Regions from separate parts of the Homo sapiens genome. Here region 2 is linked to region 1. Evidence: fine-mapped expression QTL. Tissue or cell type: tibial nerve. Region 1 holds a variant in brackets; the other region holds the start of a gene. All regions are shown on one strand. Distances are between the middles of the regions.

Evidence for each region. PIP is the estimated chance that this variant, and not a neighbour inherited with it, causes the effect.
Region 2: it holds the start of CIROZ, and the variant in region 1 is fine-mapped to the expression of CIROZ in tibial nerve (GTEx, PIP above 0.99). The same link has a PIP of 0.9 or more in pituitary.

Annotation. Positions count from the first base shown.
Region 1 is chr1:10,957,084-10,965,258 of GRCh38, forward strand. CIROZ (ciliated left-right organizer protein containing ZP-N domains) reads right to left here. Exons shown (of 13, transcript NM_001170754.2): 5 at 7,045-7,188; 6 at 1,631-1,669; 7 at 533-670; 8 at 1-24. Among named protein-coding and RNA genes, the nearest start is that of CIROZ, 21 kb to the right of the region's middle. RefSeq lists enhancers at 1,378-2,147, 2,917-3,686, 8,133-8,175 and a silencer at 3,989-4,283. The variant C/T (reference allele first, on the strand shown) is at 3,924.
Region 2 is chr1:10,978,037-10,986,211 of GRCh38, forward strand. CIROZ (ciliated left-right organizer protein containing ZP-N domains) reads right to left here and starts at 4,040. Exons shown (of 13, transcript NM_001170754.2): 1 at 3,976-4,040. The coding sequence starts at 4,001.

The DNA.
Region 1 (8,175 bases):
GAGCTCAGCAGAGGTGTTCAGCACCTGGGGAGGAAGGGGGGTCCCCCCTGAGGTCTCCAAAACTGCTCCTTCCAGATGCAGACTCCCTCCACAGGGGCCCCCTCTCCTACCTTCGAATTAGTCTCTGAACTAAAGCCCCAAGTGTTACAAAGCCCAGGTCAGGGATTATGGCGCCGATGCAACTAGGAAATATTATTTAGCTGAGATATTTTTAGCAGGAAGCGAGCTCAGAGCAAATGTCATGTGAGCCGTCTTCTCTTACACAGCAACTTTGGGCTATTTAAAGAGACGGTAATTACGCTCCTGCCGCCATGATCAGGACGCACTGAATGCATGATTGCAGGAGCCCCTCATCTGCAGAGCGGAGCGCTTTACGCTAATGGGGCCCAATTTTCGAAGGCGCCTGCCTAAATCTGTCCAGTCTCGCAGGTGGACATTTGACTTGTCACTGGAGGGGTGGCAACCTGCTCTTCTAGGTGCTATGCCCCAGAGGCCCCTCACCTCCTGGCAGAGCCTGCTGCCCACCACTGACCTCCCACCTCTGAAGAAGGCCTTGTCTCGGGCTTTGGACGGTGACAGTGGTGGCATTCATGTCCACATACAGTCCCATCAGGCTGGCGTCTTCAAGAGAAGCCACCAGCTCCCCTCGAAGGGACAGCAGCCATGGAGTCTGGAGAAAGAGGACACGATCACAAACCATGTGGCCAGGGAGGCACGGTCACTAGGGGTTACGGAGAGGGGACACTTGAAGGGTCACCTAGGAAGGCAACAGGGTCACGGGGAGGATAATCTAGGCCAGGAGGCAGGACGGCAGGCCACTCTGGGAGGAGAGTCAACCAGACGCTAGCACGCTTATACTTTAGGGTAGGAGGTCCCTTGCAGGGGTGCCTGGCACACAGTAGGTGTACAACGCAACTGAAAGAACGAACACACAGTTACCCCTAACAGCAATGCCAACCAGTCGGCCCCTATGCCGCCCTGGCTGGGCACAACTGGAGTCCTGTCCTTGGCTCTGTTTGCCACCCTTTAGTGGGACATGGGAATCAGGGTCTTGAATAAAGGTGAGGGCCAGATGCGGGCAGAGGGACAGGGAAGGGTCGCCAGCTCCCATCTCAGGAGGACTGGCAGGGAGACATCAGGAAGACTTGGGGAGGTCAAGCTCACTGACCCCAAATATTCAAAGGGATGTGAAATGGAGAAGAGGGACTGGATCCTTCGGGGAGGCTGCGGGAAACACTCAAAGGACCAGCAGAAGGAAAATTCGGGAAACACCTGTGCAACATGGAACAAGCTCCTTACAAAGGAACAAGCTCCCTGTCACTGGAGACTTGGCAGAGAGAATCTTAGCACAGGAAGGACCTTACAGCCTTCCAACCCAGCCTCCCACCCAAAGCTGGGGTCCCCTCTTCAAGATTGTTCTCAGATGGCCTCAGGCCTCTGCCTGGAGGGCATCAGTGGGAGCTTCAAACTTCAGCCGGCAAGACCTGGTCCTTGAAGAGTCTGTACCATCCACGACACTCTCCGGAGGACAAGCAAACTCAAAAGCTGCCTCAGAGCATCCTGAGCACCCACCAGTCCTAGCAGAAACTTCCAGAGAGTTGCTCCTGCTACTTCAATGGGGCCCGCTTACCTGTCTATTGTCCCTCCACAGGGGCAGGGGCCGGGAGACCTGCAGAGACAAAGAGGAAGCAATGTCTCCTGCAAGCGGTGAGCAAAGGTGAGCAAACATCCCTGCCTGTGCCCATCAGCACCGGCAATTACCCCAGCAGGAGGCCGGTGAGAGAGCTGTGCCGCAGGGTTGTTTGCTCATTAAGACAAGAAAATCATTTATGTTCTGGGACTCGAGTGTCAACAGACGCAGGGAAATGTCACTGCCTCAGCTGCCATCCTAGGCCCGGCCAAGGGGGCAGCTGGGGTCCTGGGCGCAGCTGGTGAGGCCAAGAGCGGGTGTGCATGGGACCAACCCTGCTCACGGCCCACTTCCATTGGGGCTGTTTCCTAGGCCTCTTGTCTGTTTTTCTCCCTAAGTCCCAATTTCTTTCTCGCCCTTTTTCTTTCCACTTTGGATCCAACTAGCAGAAGTAGAGAGTGAGGGCTTCTACGGTCCCAGAGAGTACACATGTGCCCCCCAATGGCACCATTCTTAGGGGCACCAACCATCCCGGTTCCCCAGCAGTGGGGAGGTTCCCCTGATGTGGGATTTTCAGTGCTAAAACTGAGACAGGCCCAGGCAAACCGAGACAGTGGTTTCTCGTACCGCGCCTGAGTCTCACAGCCATCCCGTAGGGTGGCACCATTCTCCCGTTTCACAGACCAGGGCCCAAGGTGATGGCGTGGGCAAGGCACCTTCCCCAAAACCCCTCTGCAGCCAGTGCCACCCCACCCAGGTGCTCTCTCAAGTCTCTCTACTTTCTCCAAATGCCCCTTTGCCTTTGCGTCAGACTTGGCCAGGGAGGTTGTGGCACCGGACAGAGTCACAGACCAGCAGAGGGTCCCTCGGAGACCATCAGACCCCCTCTCCTACCCAATACAGAATGAGGAGACTGGAGCCAGAGTGGACTGACTCATCTTGACAGCTCCCCAACTCAAGGCTACCCACCTCTTCTCCCCAGGGGCAAAGAAGGGCTTCCAGAAGCAGAAAGGAGTGGGTGGGGCCAGGAAAAGGCCCGCCACCACCATGCAGCCTCCCCAGTTGCCCAGCTCGGCTGTTCCTTGGCCCCAGAGAGCCCATGTTGGCAGCAGGCTCGGGCTGCCCACAGGGAGCCCCTCGGGTCAGCCCTGTGATGGCCTTGCTTTTAGGGGGTGCTGCCTTCCCTTGGGGAGCAAAGTGGAAGAAATGGAGGAGATGTCCACAAGGTCTGGCAGAATGAGGAGGATGCGGCAATTCCTCAACAACACCACCAAAGCTGCACCATGGTGCCCCAGCCCATCTCCCCTGCTGAACCAGGAAGAAGACAGAGAGGCCCCCAGAGGCCAGGCTGTAAGAAGGAGGGAAGCAATTCTGCTAAAAGAAGGAAGGGAAGGCCAGGTGCAGTGGCTCATGCCTGGAATCTCAGCACTTTGGGAGGCTGAGGCGGGTGGATCACCTGAGCTCAGGAGTTCCAGACCAGCCTGGGCAACATGGTGAAACCCCATCTTTACCGAAAATACAAAAAATAAAAAATAAAAAAATTAGCCAGGAGTGGTGGCAGGCGCCTGTAGTCCCAGCTACTCAGGAGGCTGAGGCACGAGGTTCGCTTCAACCTGGGAGGCGGAAGTTGCAGTGAACTGAGATTGTCCCACTCACTCCAGCCTGGGCGACTCTGGCCAGAGTGAGACTCTGTCTCCAAGAAAAAAAAAGAAAGGAAGGGAAGACGTGACAAGTACGCAGCCAAAACGCACCGTGCCCTTTAAGTCGCCAGGAGGAGGCTATATTTAGGGCCCGTGGACATTCCGCAGGAGCTCGGGCAGCCTTCACTGGGAGCAATCGCTAATCACTGCATTGAGTTTACGGGTGCCCCTGGGCACACTTAACCCAGGGCAATGAATAGTTATTGCGCGGCCTCCCGCTCGGGGCCTGTGGGCACACTTAAGCGAGCTCGCAGATCGCTGCGAGCAGGGCACGGCTCGGGTACACCCTTGGGCACCCTGCGCCATCAGCGGGGAGAGGCAGAGTATTAAATATCTATGTGCCCTGTGCCCACAGCTGCATTTAGCCAAGGGCAAGGCCGGTGAAACGGCTTTAATTAAAACTTAATGCAAGTTCAAGGTGCAGCCACGGAAGTGGCGGCTGCAGAAGTCACCAGGAATGAATCAGTCAATTCGATGAGGTTCTCAGATGGGGGAAGGGGCTGGAGGGGAGGCGGGGGCAGCAGAGACCTGCCTCTGCTCCTTGTGTGCTGCCTACCTCTGTGCGACTCTGTTTACGGATGCAGAGCCCCCCC[C/T]ACCCACCTGCTCCCACACCTCGGTCAGTGAAGGATGCCAGGGACTGGGGCATTGGGGCATCTGGGCTTCAAGGGCAGGACGATGGAGACCAAGCGGCGCCCGAGTGAGGAGTCGTTTCTGCTTTTCTCAGCAATTCGGCCCAGGCCCACTGTCGTGTGAGGACAGCAACACCGTCCCCCTAGCGGCGGCTTCCAGAATCACAGGCTCAGTGCAAAGGGAGCAGTAACCAGCCCCGGGATGTCAAACAGGTGCCCTGGCAGCCCTGCTTGGGGATCCCGGGGCGGGGCCGGCCCCGCAATTCTTAGGTGCACCAACACTGGCTTTGGCGTGGCCACTCTGAGCCCTTAATAAAGGTAGGTGGGCAGAGGAAGCCCCTCCCGCTCAGCCCCTGCTCCTTCAGGTTAAGAAGCAAAGGAACTTTAGAGAGTCCAACATGGCAGTGAGCCGGGCTCAGAGCGGAGATGAGCCCAGGTCTTCTGAGCTGGGCTGGTGCAGGGGCCCTTCCCACCACAGCACACTCATTTTTGAAGCTCAGATCAGATGAGAAGAAAGCGATAAGCTCTTCCTGGGGCAAGTCATGCCTTGGTCGTATCTGTTCCCTCAGCAGCAGCACAGGGCTGGGCATACAATAGATGCTCAATAAATGCTTGTTGGGGCCAGGCGCGGCAGCTCACGCCTGTAATCCTAGCATTTTGGGAGGCCAAGGCAGGTGGATCGGTTGAGGTCAGGAGTTCGAGACTAGCCTGGCCAACATGGTGAAACCCCATCTCTACTAAAAACGCAAAAAATATTTTAAAAATCAACTGGCTTTAATTAAACTGGTGGTGGCGCATGCCTGTGATCCCATGAGAATCGCTTGAACCCAGGAGGCAGAGGTTACAGTGAGCCGAGATCACACCGCTGTACGCCAGCCTAGGCAACAGAGCGAGACTCTGTCTCAAAATAAATAAATGAACAAATGCTTGTTGGATAAATGGTGTTTGTCATCAGCAGCCTTTTCACTCCAACCTCCTCCTCTCAGTTCTGCCTTCCTCTCCTTTCTCTTCCTCCTTCCTTCCTCCTCCTCCTCACAGACAGAAGATGCCCACCCAAATCCCTCAGGCCAAATCCAGCACTTTGTTTGAGCCGCACAGTGCCTACAAAATTAAAGTGACTTGACCGGGCGTGGTGGCTCACACCTGTAATCCCAGCACTTTGGGAGGCCGAGGCAGGCGGATCACTTGAGGTCAGGAGTTCTAGACCAGCCTGGCCAACATGAGGAAACCCCGTCTCTACCAAAAATATAAAAAATTAGCCGAGTATGGTAATGCATGCCTGTAATCCCAGCTACTCGTGAGGCTGAGGCAGGAGAATCACTTGAACCCAGGAGGCGAAAGTTGCAGTGAGCTGAGATCACGCCACTGCACTCCAGCCTGGGTGACAGAACGAGACTGCATCTCAAAAAAATAAATAAATAAAGTGAACTTTTTTTAACTGGAGGATTTCACATACAATTATAGATTTCCAGTTTATCTTGAAATGTTGGAAAATCTGGCAAAATGGGGCTGGAGTGCAGTCCAGCCTCAGCTCCCTCTGTAGGGGGCCAGGACTGTAGGTTGTGCCTGTTCCAGCATCCCCAGCCCCCACCATGTGGTCTGGCTCAAAGCCCAGCTCTGTTGCTACCAGCTGGCAAGTCTCCTAATCTCTCTCTGCTTAGTTCTCTCACCTGCAGAATGGGGATCAATATAGAACCAACTACATAGAATCGCTATGAAGGTGAGATGAGTTAATATTTGCAAAGTGAGTAGAACGGCACCCAGCACAGAATGAGCCATATATAAGTGTTTGCTGGGCCAGGCGTAGTGGCCCACGCCTATAATCCCAGGGCTTTGAGAGGCCAAGGTGAGAGGATCGCCTGAAGCCAGGAGTTTGAGACCAGCCTGGGCAACACAGTGAGACGCCGTCTCTACAAAAAATTTGAACATTAGCTGGGCATGGTGTCATACGCCTATAGTCCCAGCTACTTGGGAGGCTGAAGTGGGAGGATCCCTTAAGCTCAGGAGGTCAAGGCTGCAGTGAGCCTGCGTGACGGAGCAAGATCCTGTCTCTTTAAAAAAACAGGCCGGGTGCAGTGGCTCCCACCTGTAATCCCAGCACTTTGGGAGGCTGGGGCAGGTGGATCATTTGAGGTCAGGAGTTCAAGACCAGCCTGGCCAACATGGTGAAACTCCATCTCTACTAAAAATACAAAAATTAGCAGGGCATGGTGGCACACACCTCTAATCCTAGCTACTTGGGAGGCTGAGGCAGGAGAATCGCTTGAACCCAGGAGGCAGATGTTGCAGAGAGCCGAGATTGCACCACTGCACTCCAGCCTGGGCAACAGAGCAAGACTCCATCTCAAAAAAACAAACAAACAAACAAACAAAAAAACCCAGCTGACTAAATGAAGGAATGAGTAAAATTCTTTATTGCTTCCTCCTCAGTCCAGCACGCTCATTTCTGTGGCGGGTTTGGTCCCTATAGATGTTTGGGTTTCTAGCCCTCCCCACTCCCATCCAAATCATGTTTAGCTTACAGAGGTGCCCCGCTGATGAGAGCTAGAGAGAAACTTGAATTCAAGGAGCACACACGGCCATGAAAGAGCTCACAGTTGGATGTGGGGCTCAACCTTTCTTCCCTGATGTTTAAAATGTAGACATTGCACCTGATCGTACCTGGGGTCTATAACTCTTTGACATTACCCAGGTCAAAAAAAAAAAGCATCCAAACTAGCAAATTTAGCAAATTTTTTCAATCCAGAGAGAAAGGACACAAAGATGCAATTTTGCAGCTTTGGTGATAACCCGACTGGCCCCCTGAGCCAGCCAAGATGGGAAATCCAGAACCCGAGGTCAGAGAGCTTTAATCCCCCCTCCCCTCCCATCTCACTCGTCCTTGCTCAGAACCCAACCCAGCAGAGACCTAGCCAGTACCCAGGGATGTCTAGGAGAACAATGCCATACTGCATCTGCAGCTACCACCTGTCTCCCTGGGCCACGTCCTGTGGTGCAGGAGCCAGGGCCACCTGCCTTGGCCTTTAGAGAGAAGCCCAGCCTGGGAGGTCCCTCTGCCACCTCCCAGACCCCCCGAACCCATTACCTGGATGAACATGGGCCCACAGTGGACGCTTTCCTGGCCCAGCCTTGACCTTAGCATCGGACACTTCATTATGTAGCGATCACTCCGCTCCAACCCCATCACCCCTTTCTGAAATATTCTGATTTCCAGCCTGTAATTTGCTTTCTGGAAGTAGGGCAAAATTCATGTATGCAAATGAGAGAGGAAAATACAGTTAATAGCCTGCAATTATAGGTCAGTCCCTGTTCACAGCAAATAGGACACCATGAACCTCCTAGAAGGTGGGCTTGTGGAAGAGGGATGGGAAACGAGACCAAGGTCGACACCAACACGGAGCTTGGGTCTGGCTCTGGAAGCTCAGCCCCCACCAAGGAAGCCCTCCAGGCTGGGGAGCATTTGGGGATTTGGGGAAGGTCAAACCTAGTCAGACAGAATAAGAGCTTGCGTCCTAATGTCCCTTGAGAGTTGACAAATATTTGTTCACACTTTATCTCCTTTGATGCTCACCAGTGTCTCATAAGGCTGGGCTATTTTTTGTTGTTGAGACACAGTCTCATTCAGTCACCCAGGCTGGAGTGCAATGGCCTGATCTTGGCTCACTGCAACCTCCACCTCCCGGGTTCAAGCAATTCTTGTGCCTCAGCCTCCCAAGTAGCTGGAATTACAGGCAGACGCCAACACGCCCGTCTAATTTTTGTATTTTTAGTAGAGATGGGGTTTCACCATGTTGGCCAGGCTGGTGTTGAACTCCTGGCCTCAAGTGATCCGCTCATCTTGGCCTCCCAAAGTGCTGGGATTACAGGCGTGAGCCACCAAGCCCAGCCAAGGCTGGGTTTATGAGACATAAAATTCCCATTTTACAGATGAGGCAGTTGAGGCTTAGAGAAGGTAAATGACTAAGCCAAAGGCATGTGGCCATTTCTGAGACTAGATGTGAGAGCTGGTCTAGCTCATTCCGGTACAAGGCGGACTTCAAAGATGTCAAACCAATGGGTCCCTCTGCCCCTCCCAGGCTGCCCTCATTCAGCCACATAAGAAGAACCCAAGTCTAAGCTTTGCGGTGGGGCCTGAGAAGGGTGACGGGGCTGTCAGAGAAGGGCGACCACAGAGAGGAAGAGAAAGAGGAGGAGCAGGGTAGTTCCCAAAATTCCT
Region 2 (8,175 bases), 21 kb after region 1:
CACACGCATGTAATCCCAGCTACTCAGGAGGCTGAGGCAGGAGAATCGCTTGAACCCGAGAGGCGGAAGTCGCAGTGAGCTGAGAGCGTGACATTGTACCACTCCAGCCTGGGTGACAAGAACAAAACTCCACAGTAAAAAAAAAAAAAAAAAGTTAGCCACCACGCCCGGCTAATTTATTAGTATTTTTTTTGTAGAGATGGGGTTTCACCATGTTGCCCAGGCTGGTCTCAAACTCCTAAGCTCAAGCGACCCACTCACCTCAGTCTCCCAAAGTGCTGGGATTACAGGCGTGAGCCACTGCACCGAGCCCCCAAATTTCTTTATGTCAGGTAAAACATCACTGAGAGGTGACAGTTGAACCAAGATGGTATGTATGTCACGGAGTCCCGCTGGGCATGGTGGCTTATGCCTATAATCCCAACACTTTGGGAGACTGAGGCAGGAGGATCACTTGAGCCCAGGAGTTTGAGACCAGCCTGGGCAAAATAGCAAGACTCGATGTCTACAAAAAGATTTTAAAATTAACCTGGTGTGGTGGCATGCGCTTGTGGTCCCAGCTACTCAGGAGGCTGAGGTGGGAGGATTGCTTGAGCCTGGGAGGTCTAGGTTGCAATGAGCAATGATTGTCCCACTGCACTCCAGCCTGGGTAACAAAGCGAGACCCTGTCTCAAAAAAAAAGAAAGAGTCCCATGCAAAGACCTGGGGAAGGGCATTCCTCAGCAGAGGAAATAGTCAGTGCACAGCAAACAGTCGGAAATGAGTTTGGTGTGTTTGTGTTTAAGGACTCAAAAGAAGGTCAGTGGAACTAGAGCCAGTGACAGAGGGGCCGCTGGTGGGCAAAAAGGAGAGGGGCAGGCAGGAGCCATGGCCAGGGGTGCAGGCTGGGGTTTTACCATAAAAAATTGTGGGAAGCCCTGGAGAACTCTAAGCAGGGAAGGAAGAGGATCTCACTTTTTTTTTCTTTTTTGAGACTGAGTATCTCACTCTGTCACCCAGGCTGGAGTGCAGTGGCACAGTCTCGGCTCACTGCAATCTCTGCTTCTCAGATTTAAGTGATTCTCGTGCCTCAGCCTCCTGAGTAGCTAGGATTACAGGCGTGTGCCACCACGCCTGGCTAATTTTTGTATTTTTAGTAGAGTCGGGGGTTTCACCATGTTGGCCATGGCTGGTCTTGAGCTCCTGGCTTCAAGTTATTCGCCCACCTCAGCCTCTCAAAATGCTGGGATTACAGGTGTGGGCCACCGCACCCAGGGCAAGGATCTCACATTTTAAAAGACTCTTCGGGCAGCTGAGACTCCAACTATTTAAAATGACTGCAGGCAAGAACCTAAACTTCCCACAAAGAAGCTTTCCTTAGAGGAGTTCAGGAAATAATCCTGAAGCCAGAAGCTGGAAAGAAAGAATGACAGGGAGAGATTGGCAGAATGTGGAGCATTGAGAAAGCTCCTGCCTCCTGGCGGGAGTGAGGTTGGTTCAACCACTCTTGGGAACTGGTAGAATCTACTAAGACTGAACATTCCTCCACCCTTCGACCCAGCGCTTCCTCTCCAACTGCAAGGCAAGCACAAGGGCATCAGAGGACACGTGCAAGACTGTTGACAGCAGTGCTATTATTTCCTGTAACCTGGAAACCACCCCAGCGCCCAGCAGTGGTAGAATGGACCCATTGTGGTCTACTCCTACAATGGAATACTGAACTGCAATGAAAAGAAAGAAACTACTATTGGACGGGTGCAGTGGCTCACGCCTGTAATCCCAGCACTTTGGGAAGCGGAGGCGGGCGGATCACTTGAGGTCAGGGGTTTGAGAGCAGCCTAGCCAACATGGTGAAACCCTATCTCTACTAAAAATACGAAATTAGCCAGGTGCGGTGGCGCATGCCTGTAATCCCAGCTACTCAGGAGGCTGAGGCAGGAAAATCGCTTGAACCTGGGAGGTGGAGGTTGTGGTGAGCCGAGATCTCACCATTGCGCTCCAGCCTGGGCAACAAGAGCAAAACTCCGTCTCAAAAAAAAGAAAGAAAGAAAGTTAACAGTTTAAAAAGCAATGTGAAAAGGCAGGAATGGGTGCTGCATTTCCTTCTAGGGCTGCCCTCGTTGAGCCATTCGATTCCTGGGTGGGCAGAGGGCCAGGGCCTCAGGCCCAGCCCAGGGAGGCCAAATGCCAGGGCCCACAGTCTCCCCAGAGTGGGTTGGCAAAGAATGACAGGACTGGTTCCCCAGCCTGGAATCTAAGCTGAGCCTGCAGCCTTTGAGCTGGGAGGAGCTTGCGGCTGCCTGGCTGCCCCGCTGCCCCGCTTCATTCGCTGAATTCAGAAGCGCCTGTGGCGAGCCTCTCCCATGGACGGCCGGGTACCCGCCCTGGGCTCTGCTGCCTGGACACTGAGCCCAATGCGGAATTCCTCTCCCAGCAGCGGGGAGGCGCTATTATTAGTTGATTAATTTGCAAAACAAAAACCTGGCTGGGGCAATTGGTCTTGAAGGAAGGTTCTCCCAGAGCGAGTAAATCTGAGACAGGACCAGAAGAATAATCTTGGGGAAAAGGAAAGTGGCTGACTCTGGTGCTGAGTCCCGGCCTTGCCAGGGACCCCGACTCTGCTGTTACACAGGGAATGCTGTCTGGAATCGGCCCGGTGGCAGGTGGGGGGTAGACAGCTCTCCCCTCCGTCTGATGCCTGCTCCTGTTCTCCTCCTTGAGCATCAATCGGGAGAAAGATGTGGGTTTGGGTTTTTCCCCCTCACTTCTCAGACCCAGAACTGCCCCATCCCAGTCTGGGGGGAGACATGATGCTCCATCCCCCAAAGCTGAGCCCCCTCATGGGGCATCCAGGAGAAGGCAATGGGTCCCCAGGACAGGGCCCGGACCTCCCCCTTGCTCGCCCAGCCCCACAAAGCCCCACTCAGCTTCTCCACTGCCTTCATTGTCTACAGACTTCAACCTCACAAAACGCCCAACAAAAGCCCTGCAGTCCACGGCCCAAAGGCCACAAGCCAGCTATTGTGACATTCCAGCTGGCCTGGGAGGCTTCACTTCCCACTCTCAGGAGCTTTTTAAAGTATCTCTTAAAAATGCATCTCAGATGGGGAAAAGAGGTAGCAATTCTGTTGCCAAGGAAAATGAGATTTTGGCCAAGTGCAGTGAGTCATGCCCGTAATCCCAATACTTTGGGAGGCCGAGACAGGAGGATGGCTTGAACCCAGGAGTTTAAGACCAGCCTGGGCAACACAGTAAGACCCTGTCTCTACAAAAAAATTAAAAAATTACCAAAGTGTGGTGGCACATGCCTATGGTCCCAGCTACTCAGGAGGCTAAAGTGGGATGATCACTTGAGCCCAGGAGTTAAGAGATGACAGTGAACTATGATCTTGCCACTGCACTCCAGCCTGGGCAACAGAGCAAGACTCTATCTCAGGAAGAAGGAGAGACAGAGAGGGAGAGAGAGAGAGAAAGAGAAAAGAAAGGAAAGGGAAGGAAGGAAGGAGAAAGGAAGGAAGGCAGGGAGGGAAGGAAGGAAGGGAGGGAAGGAAGGAAAATGAAATTTTCTCCTAATCCTTACAATCGAATAGCTAGCGACCACAACTCCTATCATTTGAAAACTCCTTGAAATCAAGCATCTCTTGGTCAACTTGACCCCTAATTTGTTTTGTTTTAAGGACCCTCTAGGACAAGGAAGACGTGTTCTGTTTTCTCCCAATCTTCTGGAAATCCTTCCCAAGATGGGAGGACTGGAATTCCAGAACAAGGGATGACAGGAGCATGAGAAAGGTGGGAGAGACTGTGGCCGGACCTCACCTGAGAAAGTCAGCCCTTCCCAAGGCATCCATGCATCTGGGCCCCTCACCCATTTGGCCCCCTTCCCTCTTAGATGCAAGGCTTCTGATTCTGATGGAAGATATTTGGCTTCTTCAAGGAGTGTGGGCACACTAAGCATGCCACTGGCTTCTCCCAATTCCTGAATAAGGGACACTTACCAGGCAAGTGCTGGGGACCCCCACATCCTCAGGCCCAGCAGCTCTCTCCTGCCCTGGGAGAATTTAATCTGAAGCAGTTCCAAGCAACTAAACGAAAGGTTGGCTCCTCCCCTTCCCCTCCAGTGCAGGTCTCGGGTCACTCAGGTGCCAGAAAACACAGGTGGGTGTCAACACTCTCAGCTTCTCCCCATCCCTCTGCATGGGTGAGATGAATTGCTTCAGCCGTGGGAGCTCAAAATAAGATTGCGGATCAGAAGGCTGAAGATGAATTGATCCACTGAGGCTGGAGTGCAGGCCCTCATTCTCCGCTCCCGGGAGAAGCCTGTCTCTGTGCCCAAGGAAGGAAAGAAGCTAAGAAACTGAGCTTCACCGGAGGAACAGTCACGCTGTCTTGATGGGGCTTCCCAGAACCCTGCTCCAGGCCCCTCCTGGCAGAGTTCAAAAGGAGCTGAGGGGCCAGGCATGGTGGCTCATGCCTGTAACCCCAGCATTTTGGGATGCAGAGATGGGCAGATTGTTTGAGGTCAGGAGTTCGAAACAAGCCAGGGGAACATGGCAAGACCCTGTCTCTACAAAAAATTTAAAAACTAGCTGGGCATGGTGGCACACACCTGTGGTCCTAGCTACTCAGGAGGCTGAGGTGAGAGGATTGCTTGAGCCCAGGAGGTTGAGGCTGCAGTGAGCCCTGATTGTGCTACTGCACTCCAGCCTGGGCAACAGAACAAGACCCTGTCTAAAAAAAAAAAAAAAAGGGGCCGGGCACAGTCACTCATGCCCATAATCCCAGTGATTTGGGAGGGCGAGGCAGGCTGATCACCTGATGTCAGGACTTCGAGACCAGCCTGGCCAACATGGTGAAACCTTATCTCTACTAAAAATACAAAACTAGCCAGGTGTGGGGGTGCACGCCTGTAATCCCAGCTACTTGGGAAGTTAAGGCAGGAGAATTGCTTGAACCCGGGAGATGGAGGTTGCAGTGAGCCAAGATCGTACCATTGTACTGCAGCCTGGGTGACAAGAGCAAAACTCCGTCTAAAAAAAAAAAAAAAAAAAAAAAAAAAAAAAAAAAAAAAAAAAAAGACCAGGCGCAGTGACTCACGCCTGTAATCCTAGCACTTTGGGAGGCTGAGGTGGGTGGATCATCAGGTCAGGAGTTTGAGACCAGCCTGGCCAACATGGTGAAACCCTGTCTCTACCAAAAATACAAAAAATAGCCGGGCTTGGTGGTGGGCACCTGTAATCCCAGCTACTCTGGAGGCTGAGGCAGGAGAATCGCTTGAACCTGGAAGGCAGAGATTGCAGACAGCTGAGATCGTGCCATTGCACTCCAGCCTGGGCGATACAATAAGACTCCGTCTCAAAAAAAAAAAAAAAAAGGAAGAGGAGATTAGGGCACGGACACATACGGAGGAATGACGGTGTGAGGACACAGGGAGAAGATGGCCAGCTGTGAGCCAGAGAGGCAGCTCCGGAGAAACCAGCCCTGCCTGCACCTTGATCTCAGACTCCTAGCCTCTAGAACTGTGAAGAAATCAATTGGTGTGTAAATCCCAAGTCTGTGGTACTCTGTCGTGGCAGCCCTTGCAAACAAATATCCCTGCAAAATGAGGATTTAGGACTAGATGGTTCCTAATACCCTTTGCAAGTGAAAAAAAAAAAAAGTCTTGATTTTAACTATTCCATTTTATCTGTGTTTATCCCTTCCTCCCCCCGCCCCAAATACTTGCCATTATTGAAAGTCGAGGAAGCCAGGCACAGTGGCTCACTCCAGCCTGGGCAACAGAGCAAGATTGTATCTCAGGAAGAGAGACAGAGAGGGAGAGAGAGAAAGAGAGCCTGTAATCCCAACATTTTAGGAGGCTGAGGTTGGCAGATCACCTGAGGTCAGGAGTTCGAGACCAGCCTGGCCAATATGGCGAAACCCCATCTCTACTAAAATTACAAAAATTAGCCGGGCATGATGGCACACGCCTGTAATCCCAGCTACTCAGGAGGCTGAGGCAGGAGAATCGCTTGAACCCAGGAGGCGGAGGTTGCAAGTGATCCAAGATGGCGCCACTGCATTCTAGCCTGGGTGATGAGCGAAACTCCATCTCAAAAAAAAAAAAAAAAACCAGAAACTAATTATCTCCCAGGTTTAGAGGCCAGAAGTCCAAAATCCAGGTGTCAGCAGGGCCACGATCTCTCTAAAGATCCCAGGGGAGGGTCGTTCCCTGCCTCTTCCTAGCTTCTAGTGGCTGGTGGCAGTCCTGGGTGTCCTGGGCTTGTAGCTGCATCACTCCCATCTCTGCCTCCGTCACCAGCATATGGTATTCTTCCTGGGTGTCTCTGTCCACATTTTTCTTTTTCTTTTTTTTTTTTTTGAGAGAGAGTCTCACTCTGTCACCGGGCTGGAGTACAGGGGCACTAAGTGCTGGGATTACAGGCCTGAGCCACCACGCCCGGCCCCAATTTTCCTCTTCTTATAAAGACTCTAATTACTGGATTAAGGGCCAGCCTAATCCAGTATGACCTCACTTAACTTGATTGCATCAGCAAAGACCCTATTTCTAAATAAGGTCACATTCCCACATATCTGGGATTTGGCTTTTTTTTTTTTCTTTGAGACAGGGTCCTACTCTGTCACCCAGGCATGAGTGCAATGGTGCAATCACGGTTCACTGCAGCCTCGACCTCCTGGGTTCAAGCAATCCTCCTGTTTCAGCCTCCTGAGTAACTGAGAATACAGGCACACACCACCATGCTTGGATGATTTTTAAATTTTTTCTAGAGACAAAAGAGACCAGAGGGAACAGCCACGGTGGCTCACGCCTGTAATCCCAGCACATTGGGAGGCTGAGGTGGGCAGATCACTTGAGGTCAGGAGTTTGAGGCCAGCCTGGCCAACATGGTGAAACCCCATCTCTACTAAAAATACAAAAATTAGCCAGGCATCATGGCGCATATCACTCATTCTAGCTACTCGGGAGGTTGAGGCACGAGAATCACTTGAACCCAGGAGGCAGAGGTTGCAGTGAGCTGAGATCACACCACTGCACTCCAGCCCGGGCGACAGAGCAAGACCCTATCTCAAAAAACAAACAAACAAGAGACAGAGACCAGAGGTCTCTGAGATGGGGTCCGTACGAAAGATACCACTACGTTGTCCAGGCTGGTCTCAAACTTCTAGGCTCAAGTGATTCTCCTGCCTCAGGCTTCCAGAGTGCTGAGATTACAGGTGTGAGCCACTGCACCCAGCCTGTTTCTCTTTTTCTTTTCTTTTTTTGAGACGGAGTTTCACTCTGTCACCCAGGCTGGAGTGCAGTGGCACGATCTCTGCTCACTGCAACCTCCACCTCCCAGGTTCAAGCAATTCTCTGCCTCATCCTCCCGAGTAGCTGGGATTACAGGCACCTGCCACCACGCCTGGCTAATTTTTTGTATTTTTAGTAGAGGCGGGGTTTCACCATCTTGGCCAGGCTGAACTTAAATTCCTGACCTCGAGATCCACCCGCCTCAGCCTCCCAAAGTGCTGGGATTACAAGCGTGAGCCACCACACCCAGCCCTGTTTCTCTTTTTAACTCATCTTTTTGTTGACCAACTTTTCCTTTAATCCCAAATTGCTCGGGATTTATCATGAGCCGCCTAAGAAGACATGGAGTTGGAAGTGGAGACCCAGAGTGGTGCATGGAAGCTGGTTGTCACCAGGATCTGTTCACGCTCAGGTGAAAGGCCCTCATCACACCAAACAGAAGCAGGCAGGATCAGAACACACAGCTGGTGAAACCCTCACGGGCCCTGGAGGAGGCCCAGATGCCCTGGCCCACTTCATAAGGCCTCAAACAGAAACGCCAAAGCCAGGGCAAACATCACTGGTACACAGCTCACTCAGAGAACCTGCAAGGACCACCCTGGAGCTGTTGTTTAAATCTTAAAAAGAGAAGAAGAAACAGGAATTGAAAAACAGGTTTTCTTTCCTAATCTGATACCCTAAACCCCATTCCTCCTACACACACACGCACACACCTATAAACATAGCCACAGACATCTCTACACACACACCCTGAAACCCACCTACACACACAACCCTATACAAAACTCTTAGCATATGCCCCACACACTCCTAGAAATGCGCGCGCACACACACACACGCAGTAGGGGCTCCCGTCTTAGATATTTTTAGAGAAAGCAATTTCATTGGGGTCTTTCCAGTGGAGCTC